4 linked regions of the Homo sapiens genome follow. Changing the gene in region 4 together with the main gene of any one other region gives a genetic interaction. Each region holds a gene or a part of one and is shown on either strand. Other genes may lie near its edges.

The links. A genetic interaction does not mean that the proteins touch.
Region 1: changes in ARL5A (region 4) and TBL1XR1 together harm fitness more than expected from each alone (negative genetic interaction), as found in Homo sapiens cells (one large-scale study listed by BioGRID).
Region 2: changes in ARL5A (region 4) and SEC23IP together harm fitness more than expected from each alone (negative genetic interaction), as found in Homo sapiens cells (one large-scale study listed by BioGRID).
Region 3: changes in ARL5A (region 4) and TRAPPC13 together harm fitness more than expected from each alone (negative genetic interaction), as found in Homo sapiens cells (one large-scale study listed by BioGRID).

Annotation. Positions count from the first base shown.
Region 1 is NC_000003.12:177,036,783-177,041,371, forward strand, and holds part of TBL1XR1 (F-box-like/WD repeat-containing protein TBL1XR1), read right to left. Parts: intron 1,669-4,589; exon of another isoform or gene 1,653-1,668; coding exon 1,531-1,652; intron 1,391-1,530; coding exon 1,316-1,390; intron 963-1,315; exon of another isoform or gene 623-962; intron 1-622. UniProt on the Homo sapiens protein: F-box-like protein involved in the recruitment of the ubiquitin/19S proteasome complex to nuclear receptor-regulated transcription units. Plays an essential role in transcription activation mediated by nuclear receptors.
Region 2 is NC_000010.11:119,915,841-119,920,429, reverse strand, and holds part of SEC23IP (SEC23-interacting protein), read right to left. Parts: coding exon 4,541-4,589; intron 2,595-4,540; coding exon 2,386-2,594; intron 2,038-2,385; coding exon 1,919-2,037; intron 987-1,918; coding exon 834-986; intron 1-833. UniProt on the Homo sapiens protein: Plays a role in the organization of endoplasmic reticulum exit sites. Specifically binds to phosphatidylinositol 3-phosphate (PI(3)P), phosphatidylinositol 4-phosphate (PI(4)P) and phosphatidylinositol 5-phosphate (PI(5)P).
Region 3 is NC_000005.10:65,655,138-65,659,726, reverse strand, and holds part of TRAPPC13 (trafficking protein particle complex subunit 13), read right to left. Parts: intron 4,092-4,589; coding exon 4,074-4,091; intron 1,360-4,073; coding exon 1,226-1,359; intron 1-1,225.
Region 4 is NC_000002.12:151,803,377-151,808,624, forward strand, and holds part of ARL5A (ADP-ribosylation factor-like protein 5A), read right to left. Parts: intron 3,597-5,248; coding exon 3,445-3,596; intron 1-3,444. UniProt on the Homo sapiens protein: Lacks ADP-ribosylation enhancing activity.

The sequences.
Region 1 (4,589 bases), on a different chromosome or scaffold from region 4:
TGTTCATAGTAGCAGGAAAATCAGTTTTCCCTCATGATTTTCATATCTGTAACGGTCATCACATCTGCAGTCCTTGGTACTGCAAAGTCAAGGATAAAACTGTTTTCAGTAGAGGGTTAGCTGTTGCAGGAGAGGGCTCAAAGCTTCATTTATTTTGGAAATAAGTATTACGTTGTTCTTTATCTCCAAATGCTTTTTTCCCCAAATGAGGAATCTGGTGTGCTTAGGTGCGAGACAGCAGTTTTGCTTTTAGTCATACAACAAGAAAAACAGAGATCCATGTTGAGATGTGGATGTTGGTATGTCAACTAGGCTCGCTCACTGAGAGATTCTCTGCTATGTATCAGTTTCCCAGCAATGGTGATACATAGTCATACCACAGCAAAATCAAATTAATACAACGCAAAGAATTCCAATCAAATCCATGAATGCTACAAAGATTTTGAGTACTTATTAAGTCAAATCTTTACATATGCAAATAAACTTTAATTGCAAATAAACTTTAATTGCCTCAACATATGACTTTCTAATGGTGAAGACAATTTATAGCATGACCTTTCTTACTATTGGTGATGTCTAATTTTATCTGTCTTCTTGACTGAGTCACAGGGTACAGATATTTGGTGAGACATTATTTCCGGCTGTGTCTGAGGGTGTTCCCAGTTGAGACAGGCATTTAACTTAGCTGACTGAGAAAAGCAGACTGCCACCCTCCCCAATGGGCGGCGGGGGGGGCATCACTCAGTCCAGTGAGGCTCTAAACAGAACAAAACCGCCAAGGAAGCAAGAATTCTCTGCCTCAGCCTGACTGCTGAGTTGGTATATTGGTCTTCTGCTCTTGGACTGGGACTTACACCATTGGCACTCCTTCTCTGGCCCTGGAATGGAACCACACCTCCATCTTTCATGGGTCTCCAGCTTGTAGACAGCAGACTGTGGGACTTCTCAGCCTCTATAATCACGTGAGTCAATTTCTCACAGTAAATCTCTCATCCATCCATCCATCCATCCATCCATCCATCCATCTTCTTATTGGTTCTGTTTCTCTGGAGAGCCCTAACTAATAGGGTATCATATGTCTCATTGTATCACAAGCCATCATTTTAATATAATTTGCTACATTCAAATAGTTTTATGTATTTCAGAAAAGAAACTATAAAATTTAAAAAACAATGGTTAGCCATTTAAAATGTTGGAGTTTTCATGCAGGTACAAACACTCCATGTAAGACAGACATTCTAAATGGTCTTAAAATGGCCAGAGCAACCATACTGTGTGACACCGCCAACCCATTTCTCCCTACTAAGCAAATTACCTTTAAAGTCATGTCGTCAGAACAGGAGGCCAAGAGATTGCCAGTTGGGTCCCATTTGATAGCATTTACTTCATTCTAAAAATAATAGTAAATATTCACATTTTCATTGTATAGACTGGGTAGCTACTTGAATATTAAACATACATACTTTAAAACTATTCTGAAACATTACTTGTTAATCATGACCACTTTAATGTGGAAAAAAGGTTTCTTACCGTATGTCCTTGGAATGTTTTAATAGGTCTGTCTTGTCCTAATTTACAGACATGAATGCACATATCTGTACTACAAGAAGCAAAGGTGTTGTTGCTCTGCCAATCAACATCCAATGCTGGTGCTGCAAAGGAACAAAGGTTAGATTTGCTTTTATTCCACATGTACTAAAATCCAAGAGTTTTAGCTTTGAACCATTGTTGACTAATAAAATATACTAACAGGCACTTAAACATTTTACTTTATACTTTTTAAGATATTAAGAAAAAATTAAAATAAAAGTATCTATATACAACAATATTAACAAATTTCAATTTAGTTATTTCTAGGTGAGACAGACCCTAAGAGAAAGTACACTGGCCTAGTAACTGGGAGATGAAGGTTCCTGAGAGCTGGCTCTGTGGGTCTTGGGTTCTCTTTTATAAAATGATAAAATTAAATGTGATGATATCATGCTTTTCATTTCTAAAATCTGTGAGTGTTCAATGGACAAGAAGCCTCGGTTCTGTCACTGCATAATTAGTGGACACAAGCAAGTCACTTAACCTCTATGATATATCCTCTTTAGATAAGGGTAACATGCAAGTGTTACCCTCACACACAAGAGTGAGGATAACACACAAGTTGAGCACCCCAATCTGAAAATCCAAAATCCACAATGCTCCAAAATCTGCAACTTTTTGAATGCTAATATGATGCCACAAGTGGAAAATTCCACACATTAAATGCTTAATACAAACTTTACTTCATGCACAAAACTAGTAAAAATACTGTATAATGATGCCATCTGGCTATATTATAAGGTATATGTAAAACATAAATTAATTTCATGTTCAGACTTGGGTCCCATCCCCATGATATTGCCTTATGTATATGCAAATATTCCGAAATCAGAAAAAAAATAAAAATAAAAAATGCAACACAATCCTGGTCCCAAACACTTAGATAAGGGATACTAAACTTGTACTATCTTTATCCTTAGTACACATGGTGAAGACCAGGTGAGATCATGTGTGTGGAAGTACTCTGTCAATTACAAGAGTTAGACAAATGTTATGCTGAATAAGTATCATTCCCATTATCATCTACTCAACTAACAAATGGAATACGGCATATGATTTGCAAATAATTTTCTTCTAAGCAACTTTTGCCAAATACCTCTTAAAATCTGTTCTTGTCAAACACCTCTTAAAATCAAATGCCCCTTAAAATCAATGAATTTAAAAATCTCTGAAGCCCCAAAGCAGGCTGGCATTTAATACTTTGAGTTTAGCTCTGAAATTATTGAACATCCTTGTCTCCTGCTGCAAGGTGCAAAAGATCTCCGTAATTAGCAACACAGATTATGGTAATAATAGTGAGTAACTGGGTTAGGCAACAGAAGCATATCAAAGACTGCATTTAAAGCAGGGGTTGACAAACTATGGCACATAAGCCAAGAATGGCTTTTATAGTGCAATGGGGGAGGAGGGGATCAAAGGAAGACATACAAATGTGGAAAAATGAGATTTAAAGTTCAGTGTCCATAAATAAGAGTTTTATTGAAACCCAGACAAATGCATGAAGTTGCATATTACCTATGGCTGCTTTTTCACTACAAGGGCAGAGCTGATTAGTGGCAACTGAGATCTTATGGCCTACAATGTCTAAAATACTTTCAAGTCCTTTAGTGAAAGTTTGTCAACCCTAATTTAAAGAAAAAACTTAAAGGGGAAAAACAGGAGAGTTAAAGTTGAGCTGTGTGGCCAGGTGTGACTCAGCGCTTTGGTAGCAAAGGCAGGAGAACTGTTTGAGCCCAGGTGTTTGAGACCAGCCTGGGCAAGACAGTGGGACCTCATTTCTAAAAAATAAAAAATTAGCCAGGTGTAGTGGTCCATGCCTATAGTCCCAGCTACTTGGAAGGCTGAGGCAGGAGGACTGCTTGAGCTGGGGAGGCCGAGGCTGCAGTGAGCCGTGATTGCACCACTGCACTCCAGTCTGGGCAACAGAGTAAGACTACTATGTCTCAAAAAACAAAAACAAAAAGTTTAGCTATGTATACTAATTAGTAGAAATACAAAGCATTTAATAAAGGAGATTAGAGACGTCTGTGGAAAGGGAAAACAAAGCCACAAACTCCCTCATTGTGTATATCCAAGCATAATAGTAACTGGCTATGTTAAAAATGAAACATAAACAGGTGCTTAAGCAGTTAAACTTATCAGCCAAGAGATATGTCATGCGTAAGAACTTGTAACTATGGATAGGAGAAGTAAAAAGAATGGGAAAAGAAGATTTAAAGCATTTAGGACTCAGAAAGGAAATTTTAATCAGAACTATACTGAGATTTTTTTTTTTTAAAAGATAAAGTACAACAGGAAAGAGTGAAATTGATTTCACTGCCTGGCTAAAGACAAATCAGGTAAGCCCCAAATCTAAAAGTACTAAGTACTAAAGAACAAAGAAGCGAATTGTAGTAATATGACCAGACATTAAAATAATTAGTTTTGGGTATATTTCTACAATGAAAAACTAGGTATCAGGACACCACTTGGATAGAGTAAGCTCATAAAGGAAACAGACTGGAAAGAAAAGATTTAATGGGAACTTACTATGGAGGTTACATGAAATTTCAAATAACTATATTTTTAAAATATTTAATCCTCCCTCAATCAACCTTTTAACAAAGTGCCATATAAAATTATTAACATAAATTCACCTTTTATACAAAATTTCAAATTATGAGAATTCCCAACAAAGTAAACATAGTCAAAAATCACACCTCAGAGTTGTCAGGCTGAGTAAGTTGCAGGCTGTATTTTTATTCTAGTCATGAAGCAGCACTGCTTTAGCTGGTGTTTGCTCTTCCTGCCCATAAGCCTTTTTGCCTGTGCTGTGTCCAATTCCCAGCTGAGTGCTTCACTGCTAAGGGCTGCCAGGGACAAACTTCACAGAACTGCCTTGCTCTGCTGCTCTGTATCCAAGCTGGTGTTGTGTATGTTTTTGGGAAGGAGGGAGGGAGGAGAGATCTAAAGACCTAGCACCCTTGGTTCAATGTAAGAAAAACTTTGAGGTGCAAGCT
Region 2 (4,589 bases), on a different chromosome or scaffold from region 4:
CACTGCATCATTCATTCAACAGCTGTAGGGTACTCCGTTATGCGGATGCACCATAAATGATTTCACTAGCACCCTACTCCTCAACACCAATGGTGTCTCTAATGTTTTGTTACCTTGCAAACACTGCTGTGAGTATCCTTGTAGATAATTCTTGTTTGAATATTTCTCTATAGGAAATATTCCTGGCAATGAAACTGATGAAGCAAAGGGTAATTTTTATATTCTTAAAGATATTGCCAAACTGCCTTCCAAAGAGTTTGTAATATTTTACAGTCTGACCAACAATATATAACAATGCCTAGTTCCCTTCACCCTGGCCACATAGCATATTTTCAAACTTCCTATTTTTTCAAACTGGTAAGTTAAAAAAAATCCCATTGTACTTTCAATTTCCATTTCTCTTATGAGTTTTCATATGCGAAGACACCATTTGTTATTTCCTTTTCTGTAAATCATGTTTATATTCTTTGCCTATTTACATATCACACTGATGTGATGGTCTTTCTGTAACTGATTTGTAGAAGCTTTGAAAATCAATGAAGTAAGCCCTCTGTCTATAATGTGTGTTGCAAATGTATCACTGGCCTTTAGATGTTGTTTATGGTGTCTACTGTTATACAATTTTTTTCTTTGATGGCTTCTGGATTTTGCATCATACTCAGAAAAGCCTTTCAGATTATAAAAAAATATTCTTCTGTGTTTTTCAATTTTTTAAAACATTTCAGTCTTTGTCTACTCTGGAGTGTATTTTGATACGAAAATGTTTATTCTTAATTTTCAATCTACACAAGAAAAACAATTTCAAACAAAATGAAGCAAACTATGATCAGTACCAGGGACTCCATATCAATCTTTTCCTTTTCAAAAGTGCTAAAATATTCAGAGAGGCTAAGTGCTTCCAGAGTTTCTTGCAAAGTTAGGACTTCTTTATTTTCAACAACAAGGTCATACGACTCATCCAAAGTCAGCTTTGGCTCTTCAGGCATCTTTAAAAAAAAAAGTATGAAAAACATTACAAGCTCAGAAAAACTCCCATATAATGACTGCTGATCTACGAAAACTCTCAAACAATTTTGCTTTACACAGAAATCATAATTTTAGGCACAGTACTTTGCCATTCAAAGTTTGAATATTCTGGCCAGGCCCAGTGGCTCACGCCTGTAATCCCAGCACTTTGGGAGGCTGAGGCAGGTGCATCACCTGAGGTCAGGAGTTGAAGACCAGCCTGGCCAACATGATGAAACCCTGTCTCTACTAAAAACACAAAAATTAGCTCAGCTTGGTGGCAGGCGCCTGTAATCCCAACTACTCGGGAGGCTGAGGCAGGAGAATCGCTTGAAACCGAAAGGCGGAGGTTGCAGTGAGCCGAGATCACACCATTGCACTCTAACCTGGGTGACAAAAGTGAAACTCCGCCTCAAAAAAAAAAAAAAATTGAATATTCTGAAAAGTATATAAATTTAATAAATCACTCAAGTCTCCATTTCCTATAATTTACATTTTTAAAAATCACAAACTTTCACATTTAAATTTATAACCCATAAAGAAGAAGAGTGAGAAACTCAAATAATGAGCTATATGATTCCATTCCATTTCTAAACCTCGGTGTACTTTAATATGTAAAACCAGTTTCAGGGCTGGACACGGAAGCTATTATATTTGGGCCTATAACTGTACTCTGAATTTGGGGATTCTCTGAAGAGTTATTGATGCCAGCACTTTGGGAAGCCAAGGCAGGAGGATCGCTTGAGGCCAGGAGGGAACTCAAGACTAGCCCAAGCAACCAATGAGGCTCAGTTAAAACAAACAAACAAACAAACAAACAAACAAAAGTTTCAAGAAACAGTTCAGACTTTTGAAAATTGTTCAGCTCCATAGACTCTAAATCGAAATGTTAATTGGCCACGTACAGACGTACCTGCTTTTCCTGAAAATGTAGCTGCTTCACAACTCCATTAGCAACAGCAAGAGGTCCAGGGCACTTTGATAAATTCAAATCTTTTTGATTAGACAGGATGTCAAACAATATTAAAGAACCTATGAAAAAGAAACATTTTGCCTTATAATGTAGTAGGTACTTTTATAACACTAATTCTTTTTTCACTGTCTATAGTCAAAAGTCATACAGAAGTTACATGTTATTCAAGACCTGATAATTAATTATTTTATCAAACAGCAGAATAAAGTAAAATACATAGCATTCCCTAGGTAATACTAGAGGTGAATATAGAAAAGGCAGAATCTAAACTCAGAGCATTCATTTCTACCTTTTCTGAAACTTAAAATCTGTAATTCTTAATTTTGCACTAACAATATCACCTACACTGAAAGCAGTTATGACTCAACAAAAATTGTATTTAAAATGTGAATATTTGACAGTTTTACCTAAACTGTGACCAGCAACAGAGACACCTCCTTTGAAGTCTGGGTTCCGACTCATAAAGAGTGCATGCAGATGGTTTATCTCCATTCCTACTTTTTCCACAATTGTCTGACAGTAGGTGGGGCTGTTATAAAATAAAATATCTAGCAAAGTTTCATTGGTAAAGTGACGAAATCGACCAATACTTGGCAAAGTGATTTTCTTAATATTCCTGTTTAAAAAGAAAAATACAGCACATTCAGTCAGCATCTACCTTAAATTTACAGATTTTTTTAAAGTTTAGATTTTTGACTCCTGAAAATACACTAAGAAAACCCCACAGACTATGAGTTGTTTCTGTAGATAGTCATTATAAATAAATCAAGATAGGCCAGATGCGGTGGCTCACACCTGTAATCCCAGCACTTTGGGAGGCTGAAGTGGGTGGATCACTTGAGGTCAGGAGTTCAAGACCAACCAGGCCAACATGGCGAAACCCCGTCTTTACTAAAAATACACAAATTAGCCGAGTGTGGTGGTGTACACCTGTAATCCCAGCTACTCAGGAGGGTGAGGCAGGAGAACTGCTTGAACCTGAAAGGCAGAGGTTGCAGTGAGCTGAGACTGCACCACTGCATTCCAGTCTGGGCGACAGAGCAAGATTCCACCTCAAAAAAAAAAAAAAAAATTTAAATCAAAAGTTAGCCACAAGTCATGGCACACACCTGTACACCCAGCTATTTGGGAGGTTGAGGCATGAGAATCGCTTGAACCCAGGAGGTGGAGGTTGCAGTGAGCCGAGATTGTGCCACCACACTCCAGCCTGGGTGACAGAGCGAGACTCCACATCAAAAAAAAAATTAAAAGTATAAATAAAGGTAAACCAAAAAAATTTGTGCTGCCACATGTGGTGGCTCATGCCTGTGATCCTAGCACTTTGAGAGGCTAGGGCAGGAGGACCGCTTGAGCCCGGGAGATCAAGACCAGCTTGAGCAACACAGTGAGACCCCATCTCTACAGAAAATTTAAAAATTAGCCAGGCATGGCGGCTTGCACCTATAGTCCCAGCTACTTGGGAGACTGAGGTGGGAGGATCACTTGAGCCCAGGAGGCCAAGTCTACAGTGAGCCATGATCATGCCAGCGCACTCCAGAGCCTGGGTGACAGTGAGATGCTGTCTCAAAAACAATTCAGTTTTTTTTTTAAAGTTATTTGTGCCTATAACTATACTATGAATTTTGGGATTCTCTGAAGAGTTAGTTGCTATATAAGTCATATGCAAAGATTTCTATTTTATTTTTAAAGAGGGAAGATTACTCTTCCATTTTTCTTCCAGTTAACTGCAAATCTGGACACCTGACAAAACTTGTGGGTCAAAAGGACTAAAGAGAATATCAAACAGAAAAAACAGGGCTACATGGAATGAAAAATCTTCCCTAATTTGAGAATGACCAAAATGAAGTTTAGGAATACACACAGAGAAAGAAAACACCCTTACAATAGGGCCTAACATAGACAAAACGCTGTTTGTAGAAATAGTTTTATTAAACTATGTACCCTGAAACATTACGGTGTTCACTAAAATCTAGACATGTGCCAGCATAACTATTACCTGTATTTATGATTCTCAATTGGGAGCATTCAAAATTGAGCAGAGTATTTTTAATTGTCACAGTGCCTGGTGAGCACTGCTAGTACTGAGTGGCCTTTACACTAAGGAAGTTAAGTGGTCTGCACTGCGACAGCAAAGAATTGTCCTGACAAGAGCATCTCCACTGAGAAACAATATTCTGAATCTGTGGTTCTCAGCCAGGGGTGATTTTTACCCTCCAGGGGACATCTGGCAATTTCTGGAGACATTTTTGTTGGGGTGGAAAGCCCATTAGGCATCCTACTACATAAAGGACAGCCCCCTGTCTAAACTGCTACAGATTAAAATTGTATTTTAAAACCAGCTAAAATTTCTTAAGATTCTCTTAAATATTTACAAAAGGAATGCACACACACAGAGAGAAAAGTAGTGTGTAAACTTTACAGCCAATATTTAATTATATGTCAGAAGTATACAATTTTTAAAAACATATTGATTGAAGCTACAATAAACTATTTCATATTACGGTTTAAATCTTAAATTTAAATATGACTAATCTGAAAAACAAGTTATCAAAATCCACAAACCTGTCCACACCTGTGGCGTCCCCACCCAAAGAACTATGCCAATGAACTG
Region 3 (4,589 bases), on a different chromosome or scaffold from region 4:
CAGGCATGAGCCACCACACCCAGCCTATTACTTTCTTATCTGTATTATTGTCAACTTTACATTTATTCTTCCTCTTTTAAATTAGCTGTGGAAAGGTGTATGTATTTCCTTTTCACAAAGTATTAAACCATCTATTCCTATGTCCTTTTCTTTTGATGTTGAGAGAGTATTTCTTTTTTTAAACCCACATTCACCCTTACTCTTTTTAACTTCTCTACCATTCCTTCACATTCCTCCATTTTATTATTTGCAGGATAGCAATGATAGGATTCATATTTACCTCACTGGATTTTTATGAGACTTAAAAGACCAAATGCTTTGAATAGTAAAACATGAAATTAAAAGGGCTAGGATCTTTATTTTTATGTAATGGAGGGATGAAGATGGAGCACAGGAGAGTTTTTGGAAAGTGAAACTATTTTGCATAATATAGTAATGGTGGATACATGTTATATATTTGTCAAAACCTACAGTGCTTGACTATAGTCCCAGATACTTGGGAGATCGTTTGAGTCCAGAAATTTGACTTCAGCCTGGGCAACATTAATGAGACCTGTCTCTTAAAACAAAACAAACCAAAAACCAAAAACAATAAAACATACAACAAAAAGTGTGAATTCTAATGTAAATTATAGACATTAGTTAGTAATCAGTGTCAATATCATTTCATCAATTGTAGTAAATGTACCACATTAAAACAAGATGTAGGCCAGGCACAGTGGCTCACGCCTGTAAGGACAGCACTTTGGGAGGATAAGGTGGGCAGATCGCTTGAGGTCAGGAGCTGAAGACCAGCCTGGCCAATATGGTGAAACCCCATCTCTACTAAAAATAAAAAAATTAACCAAGCGTGGTGGCATGCACCTGTAATCCCAGCAGCTTGGGAGGCTGATGCACCAAAATTGCTTGAACCTGGGAGGTGGAGGTTACAGTGAGCCTAGATCAAGATCATGCCACTGCATAGAGCTGGACTCTTTCAAAAAATAAATAAATAAATAAATAAATAAAAATAAAAATAAAATAAAAAACAAGACGTAAATAACAAGAGAAACTGTGAGGAGTGGAAGAGGGTATGTGGAAACTCTACTTTCTGATGAATTTTTCTATGAACCTCAAATTCTTTAAAAAAAGTCTATTAAAAAAAAACCCACTGAAGAGCAATGGATGTTTAGAAAAACATGTATCTTTCAAAACAAGGATAAAGACTTCATAAATTAATATTTACCATTCTCCAGCTTGGCTGACTGAATTTAATTCTGTTACATTGTACATAATAGATGGCTCCAGTGAAACCTTCTCCATAAACATAGGTGAGGTTGTCATATTCTGAATCTGGGCTTCCAGAAATACTTCATCAGTCTGAGGATATGAAAAAAATATCCACCAAGGTGTGGTGGCATTTAAAATATTTATCTCAACAAAAATATCTTATCTATATGAAGAAAAAATATTAACCACAAATGTGATTAGTTCATGCCTGCAAATCAAAGTTACCACAATTAATGCAAGAAAAGAAATCTTCACCCTATCATAATTAACAGGGGCAAAGTCAAGTGTTAGTCAACTGATACCTTGTCAAACAATGGATGGAGGATAACTATATTTTGTCTTAACATCCCAAAATACTTAACTGGAATTTCATTTACAAATACTCTTTCTTTTCATTAGGTATTAAAATATTAAAATGTGCTTTAGTATGATGAATATACCTATGCTCCTATAATTTCAGTATTACGTTAAGATAATTAAGTCTTCATTATAATATGGCAGTATAACTTTGATTGTCATATTAATGCCAATTTAGATAGTGTAGTGACCACTAATACTATGAATAATCTATTTTGTAATCTTGAAGGATTTAACTTTTTAAATTAAAGCAATTTGCGAGTGGTCATTAGTGATTTCTTAGTTCATTTTAAATGTATATTGAGGGCTAAAAAAAGAATATGTGGATTATACTTCACCATCGTAGAGCTTTTAAATCAGGCAAAAGGTATTTTGTAGCCTCAGTGACAGATTTTAAAGCTGATGCTATTTAGCAATATTTGCCAGTAGGTAATTTTAATAATTAGATAAATTAGATAATTAGATAAATTTAGATAAATTAATTCCCCTAATTATGCTAAACATTATTTTATGCTATTTGGTTATTATTTTCCTTCATGTAATTGAAGGATAACAGACTAACTTGATTTATCTTTGAAACAAACCTACATGAAAAATGATACACTAAGGGTATTCAATAATTTTTTTCAAAAGTTTCATAGTAATATGTTTACTACACATAAATAACATAAAATCAACTATGACCAGAAAAATTTGCCACTTAAGAGCTTTTTATTTTTTTGAGACAGTCTCATTCTGTCACCCAGGCTGGAGTGTGGTGGGGTGATCTTGGTACACTGCAACCTCCGCCTCCCGGGTTCAAGGGATTCTCCTGCCTCAGCCTCCCGAGTAGCTGGGATTATAGGCGCGCAATATCATACTGAGCTAATTTTTGTATTTTTAGTAGAGACAGGGTTTCACCATGTTGGCCAGGCTGGTCTAGAACTCCTGACCTCAAGTGATCCACCCACCTCGGCCTCCCAAAGTGCTGGGATTAGAGGTGTGAGCCACTGTGCCTGGCCTATGAGCTTCCCCCAACCCCCACAAGATGGAGTCTTGCTCTGTTGCCCAGAGTAGAATGCAGTGGCAAGATCTCCTCTCACTGCAACCTCCACCTCCCAGGTTCAAGCGATTCTCCTGCCTCAGCCTCCCTAGTAGCTGGGACTACAGGCAGTGCCACCATGCCCAGCTAAATTTTTGTATTTTTATTTATTTTGAGACGAAGTTTCACTCTGTCACCCAGGCAGGAGTGCAGTGGTGCGATCTCAGCTCACTGCAACCTCTGCCTCCTGAGTTCAAGTGATTCTCCTGCCTCAGCCTCTCAAGTAACTGGGATTACGGGCAAGTGCCACCATGCCTGGCTAATTTTTGTATTTTTTATAGAGATGAGGTTTCACCATGTTGGCCAGGCTGGTCTCAAACTCCTGACCTCGTGATCCGCTCGCCTCGGCCTCCCAAAGTGCTGAGATTACAGGCATGAGCCACCGCGCCTGGCTGAGCTTTTTAAACACTAACACCAAGAAAATGAAAATCATTTGCAAAAATATAATGATTAAGTTATAATATAATGTACTATTATCTAAAATAAAACAGATTCTTTAGTTTTTGGGACATGTGTTCAAATGAAAATAGAAATAAAATGATTTATCAGTTTAAAAAAATGCATCATTTAATGGCATTTTTTGGTTACTGGTTCTAAAAAAAAGTACATATATCCCATCAATCCATTGCTTTTAAAAAAATAACCACAGACCCACATTTCAATTTAAAAACTGCAATTTTCTGCATAAATTTAGGAAGAGCTTAGATAAAACGAAAGAAAAACAAGCAGCATAATGGAAAATCAAGTTAGTTTGAACAGTTAGTGTAAAGCAATTTGATATTTTAAAAATTAAGAATTCAGTGCTAAGGCAGTTGATGTTATTACATATGTAATGTGATATAAGCAAATGCTGCTTATTGTAAATATAACTTTGAAAACAAAATTTTAGCCAAGTTGGGAAAATTTGCTTTTCTTCTGTTTCATTTTGTCAAGCGGCCATCATCACCTGACCCAGACTTAAAACTAAAACCACTGTGCATCTGAAAATGAATTTCGATTATACAGTCTACTCAAAGAACTGAAGGCTAGGATAATCGGGTATTTTACAGTAAGATGATGAAAATCACAAGGCCATTTGACACAAGGTAACATACCTCTTTAAAAAAAAAATCTAAAGAAGAAACACTGAAAATGAGAATTGTTTCAGTATGACAATTTAACTTTTGAGCTAATTTTGCCCCACGGAATAGAAAATTGATATAATTAAAAAGTACATAAAATTATATATAATCTTTCTGAAGTCACATAGGTGGTATTCACAACTAACTGTTTTTCCACTATGTTTTGTAAAGAGAGATTAATTAGGCAGAGTCAAAAAGTGGTGAGTAAGAAAAGTATAAAAATTTATAATAAAAAATCAAATTACCACAGAACTGAGGTCACTCTAATGGAAAAATAAAAAAGAATAATTAGAAAAATCAGAGTTAAATGTTAAAGAAAAAAGAATTACTTTAAAATAAAATGCATTTCTGCATTTTTTTAAATTACTAAACAAGACAGCATTAGTAAATAAGAAAGTAAACAGGAAGCAACATAAAGAAATATGACAAACCATTTTTCTAAAAAGGTGAAACTGCTAAGGTTAAATGACAATGGAATAGAGAAGAACCCTATGGCTGAATACTCAACAGTAGCAAACTGTTAAGGGCACATTTTGGAGCAGAGAGGTATACCCCATGACTTTCTAGTTCTATAATTCTTTACCAACATTGCAATTCTTCATAGATAATTTAGGATGAATATATACTATCCTCCACATTCAGAATAGATATACACCGTATACCTTCTCTTAAATTTATGTAATAATGGAATCATCTTTCTAAGGAATATCTTGGGCAATTAGAGTTCCGTTGATCACTTCAGGGAATGTGGGGCTGAACCA
Region 4 (5,248 bases):
CAGCAAACTATGAACAGCAAACTAAAAGAGAGCATTTTTCATTTAGCTAAATAACAAAGATTTAAAAATCAATAATATTCAGTGCTTGGGCTGCTGCAGTGAAGCCATATTCTCATACACAATACATCTGTGCTTTTTTTGTCTTTCCTCTTTTTTAGACAGGGTCTCACTCTGTCACCCAGGCTGGAGTGCAATGGCACAATCAATGGCAGCCGTGACCTCCTGGGCTCAAGCGATCTCCCCACCTCAGCTTCCCCAGCAGCAGGGACTACAGGCGTGTGCCACCACACCCAGCTAATACATCTGTGCTCTTTTGGTTCAGTTATATCTCTAGCACCCAGAACGCTGTCTGACACTTTAAAAAAGCTTTATAATTATGCAATGAGTGCCCACAGAAAGCAACATATGTCAAAAATATATCTGGCAATACGTATCAAAAATATTTAAAATATCAATACTCTGCATCCTTTTTTCTACTTCTAGAAATGTATCCCAAAAAAGAAAATCAGACATAAACATAGACTTACATACAAAACTGTTCATTAAAGTACTTTTAATAGGAAAATAATTTTTGTCTAAAAATACAGAAAAAAATAAATTACAAGACATTTGTATGATGAAATATTTAAAATTTTCCTTTAAAAAATGATTTCATAATTCTCATCACCAGGAAATGGAGGAAATAAAACCATTTTATAATAGGATAAAATGCTCATGATATAAATGAAAAATGGCAGGATATTCAACAAAATATATATTGTAGTTATTAAAACAAAGTATACACATGTTACATAAATATTATAAAATGTAAGTATGTAAAACTTTTGAAGGCAATAAAATTTCTTATCAGTAACATCAGTTATCACTGAACAACTGGTAATTGAACATAACCCAAAATATAGAAAACGATGTTCACTGTGGGAAAAGAAACTAAAAGTTGAGCAAGAGAGAAATGGTTGTACACATTAAGTTGCAATAAAATGAAGAACTGTTATAAGTATTAACTATTATCTATGACAAGCTTTTGCAGACATAAAAAACTATGTTACAATATTAAATTTTTTTCAATTCAGAGTTTTGTTAAGTATGAGTCTAATAACGTAAAAGAAGACACAAATAGAAAAAAGATGGCAATGAGGTAAATAAATGGTTGTTTTGGGGTGGTTGTCCCATACTTTTCTCCTGTGACTAGATTCATTACTTTTAAACTACTGATAGGAAACAGTACACAAAAATAATAGATGAAGAGATTGTTTAACTCCAAACTGATAAATGAACAGTAGTTACCTAATAGCAAACTAGAAACTAACTTAATATCCATTCTCTTAATTAATCTTTACAACACTGAGATCAGAATCCTTCCAATGTTACAGAGGAAACCCAGGGTTGGCAATGTTAGCAAATGGGAAAAGTAGGAGTCAAATGAAGCCACACACTGAAGTTTGTGATCTCCAATCCACTGAATCAAAACGCTAATCAATACTAAAACCAATAATTTAGATCAAGGTAGCTGAACTATAAAAGAAAAACAGAACATTTCTCTCAAAACCAAACTCATCTATTATTTTCCTATTTTTAAAACAAAATTGCTTTACCTCTTTTTAAAATGAAATTGAGTTAATATCTATACTAATGATACATTTTCCATACAATTATCAAAGTATATAAATTAAATCTTATGTCAATCCTAGATGACGTGTCTTTATTGACAAATATTATAAATCCATGCTTTTGCTTGACAAAGATATATATATTAGACTATTTGACAAAGAAATACTTAACATATTTTTACTTAAATGAATACATGGATAATTGGTATTATCTGTGATTTTTTTAATGAACAGTTTTTTTTTAATTAAAAAACCTTTTTTAAGGTTCTAATTATGCTCTTCCAAATGTCAGTAACAGTGCCTTCTATTAAGATTTGCCTTCAATAATTCGTTATATTTGGTTCACCCTTCATCGTGGTCTTGAAAGGAAAACAATTTCTCCCACTTCAGCTAATTCATCTATACCCCATGCTTTTGTCCTTTCCTAACACCTCAAGAACCTCAACCCCAAACTTAAGACTTCTATTTAGAATTCACCGCTTATTTCTCTTTTCCTCTGCTTTTAAATGCAATCATGCATCATTTAATGACAGGGATACATTCTGAGAAATGTGTCAGGTGATTTCATCATTGTGTGAACATCAGAGTGTACTTACACAAACCTAGATGGTATAGCCTAGTATGCACCTAGGCTCTGTGCCATACAACCTGTTGCTCCCAGGCTACACACCTATACAGCATGTTACTGTACTAAATTCTGTAGGTAACCATAACCCAATAGTAAGAACTTTTGTACTGAAACATATCTAAAAATAGAACAGTTATTGTAAACATATAGTATTTTAATTTTATAGGACCACTGTCATATATGTGGTCTATCACTGACCAAAACATCATTATAGGGTGCATGACTATATATACAGATGCACCATATTTTGGAAAAACAGCAACAAAAATTGTACTTTAGTTTGGTCCTCCTTTTAGCTTTTTATCCTATTTCCAACCTCCTCTATTTTATCTTTCCTTCCTCTTCTTGCCACACTCTAGAGTTTACAAAGCTATTTTTGCTTCCTAAAATCTACCTCCTCTTTAAACTACACTTACCTCATGCCCACTTTCTCAATGCACAGAATTTGTTCTGACAAACTGGTTGAATGTACTCATTTGTTGTTAATTGAATGGCATCCTCTCCATCTTCCTGGTCCTTGACCTTAGATTTGACAATGCTGACCACACCACTTCCTTCTTGAAATACTTTCATCTCTGGGTGCTAGACAGGGCAAACTTCTACTATAGGCACACACTTCTCTTCCAACATCTATCATTCCAGAACCAAGGACCATCATTGCTACACTCTCTCCAATTCCCCCAATCCTTCTTTTGTTTAAGTGCATCAGTTCCAACAGTAAATAAACCCAAAGTAGTCTCAGACATGAATTCTCTTTGATTTGAGCTTCTTTATGCAGAAAATATCACTTAAAAACAATTACTCTGTAGGACTGTTATGGGGATTAAATGAAGCACTATATGGAAAACACTCCAGACATAGGACATGCTCGGCACATGTCAGGTCTTCAGTTCCACTATCATCGTAAAATGTATTTCCTAACTTCTCCAGCTCTCACTGATACTCCCATTTCTCTGAGCTCCTATAGCAATTATAACAGCTACATGCTTCCATGTTCAGTAGGTTTATGTGTATTATGTTTATATTGTTTTACTATTTACAGAACCACCCTAAAAAGTCTCTGATTATAGACATGAACTACAGCTTACGTCTGTCCCTTACGATGTTTTATACACAATAGCCTTAAATATTTAGGAGTTTAAAGAAGATATACATGTTACTAAGCAAAATAAATGTTCGATAACATTTAAGAGGAAGATGTCTTACCCCTCGCCAGTTAGAGCACAGCATGCCTGGATATGCCACTGGTGATCTTTAATAGAAGTTAGCTTCAAAAACTGGGAGATTTCTGCTACAGTCATGCATTCTTTAACATCTTGTTTATTAGCAAAAATCAGCAATCCAGCTTTTCTTAGGTCCTATTAAAGCAAATAAAACTGTAAAGGCCAATACATTTTCCACATATTTTTCAACTTCATTAACAGAATCTTTTTCACAATCTTAGTAAACAAGAATTTCTCAACTATGTGACATAAAAGCATCTCAGTGCCTAGGCTGATAACACATTTTTTATACTTGTATGTGTTTACATATTTCTTATAGTCTCAGACAACAATTTTTTATGGTCCTAAGTGCTGTATTTAACAGTCATGTTTCCCAGTATATACACCACCCACCCCCTAAATCCAAAATTAGGCTTAAATGGCTAAGAACTACCTTTTAGCCTAATACTTGAGAGCTCTCCAAAATTTTATCTTGCCTATACTTTTCTGCTTTACCTCACATCACTCCTATATAAGTACTCTGCTGTAATTAGCAACCTATCCTACTGCTCTCTAAACAGTTTTGGGCACTGCCATCTCTATGTTGTTCAAATCATTTCTCTTGCATGTATTTCCTTCCCTCCAACCTCCTAAACCAGCCTTTCCCAATCAGGATTCCACAAGAGAATTAAGCTCCAAAGAAAACGATGAGTGACTACATTGCAAATCTCCCAATAATGTACACAGCTAGTACCTTCTAGCTGCATAGGAAATAAATGAATTCATTACAATGTATGCCTTAAAACCTTAGGGCTTAATTCTCAGTTGAAGTTCTATCCTAAACCAATCCTATTCACCCTAATTTCTGTCATTGTATATGAAGATTTCTTAGATTTGAATATGTAATACAGCCATCTTGGAGTGGCATTAAACTTATCAAGTTTCCCCAATTAGAAGTTCTATCACTTCAATGCTATGACTCAGAGGCAAGTTCTTTAAGCTTTCTGAATTTGTTCCTCATATCTTTTACTGAGTATCTGATCTGAGCAAGACACCTACTGCATTAACCCTTTTCCGAATGTAATTGTGCACACTCCAAATAACTGGTATAATGTTTTACTCACTAAACAGGCCAAAAGTTCTTAGTCTCTTCCTGCCCCACTCCTCTCTACCTGCCAGTTTTAAAGCCAGGGACTTCCTTGATAATCTGTTCAAAATCACAGATCTTTCCCCCCAAAACACACATATGCATATACACAAAATTTTTTTAAGTTTATGTACAATTTGAGGGTGTTAATAAATAGCCTAAATTCCCTACATGGATACTGGGCCAAGAATCCATGAAGGATGTACTCAATTAGCAAGTGAAACCCTCATAAAATTCTGCCTGTTACATATTAAGAGATATAAAATTAAGGTTTTGGTGCCACACTTGCAAGTTTTCACAACTGTTGAATGGCATTTGTCTTCTTAGGGATTTTACTGAGATATTTTGGTTTCAATAATGTATGTGTTTGAATAAATAAAATCTTCAGCAGATACAAAATGACTTTTGTTAGAATACAGTTTTGATGATTCTTTCTGATGCAAATAAAAACATTAGTAGTATATTTGTATTTCTTATTTGGTTAAAGGAGTTATGTAAAATATTTATATAACAATCAAGACTGACTTTAATTACAGTGCCCTCTGCAGGATGGCAGCTATTAATGCTACCACAGTTTATATAGTTATCTCATTAAGTATGGTCAGAAAGGAATACTGCTACAATGTTTGCAATTTTAAGATTTCATGTTCAACTAGTTTCA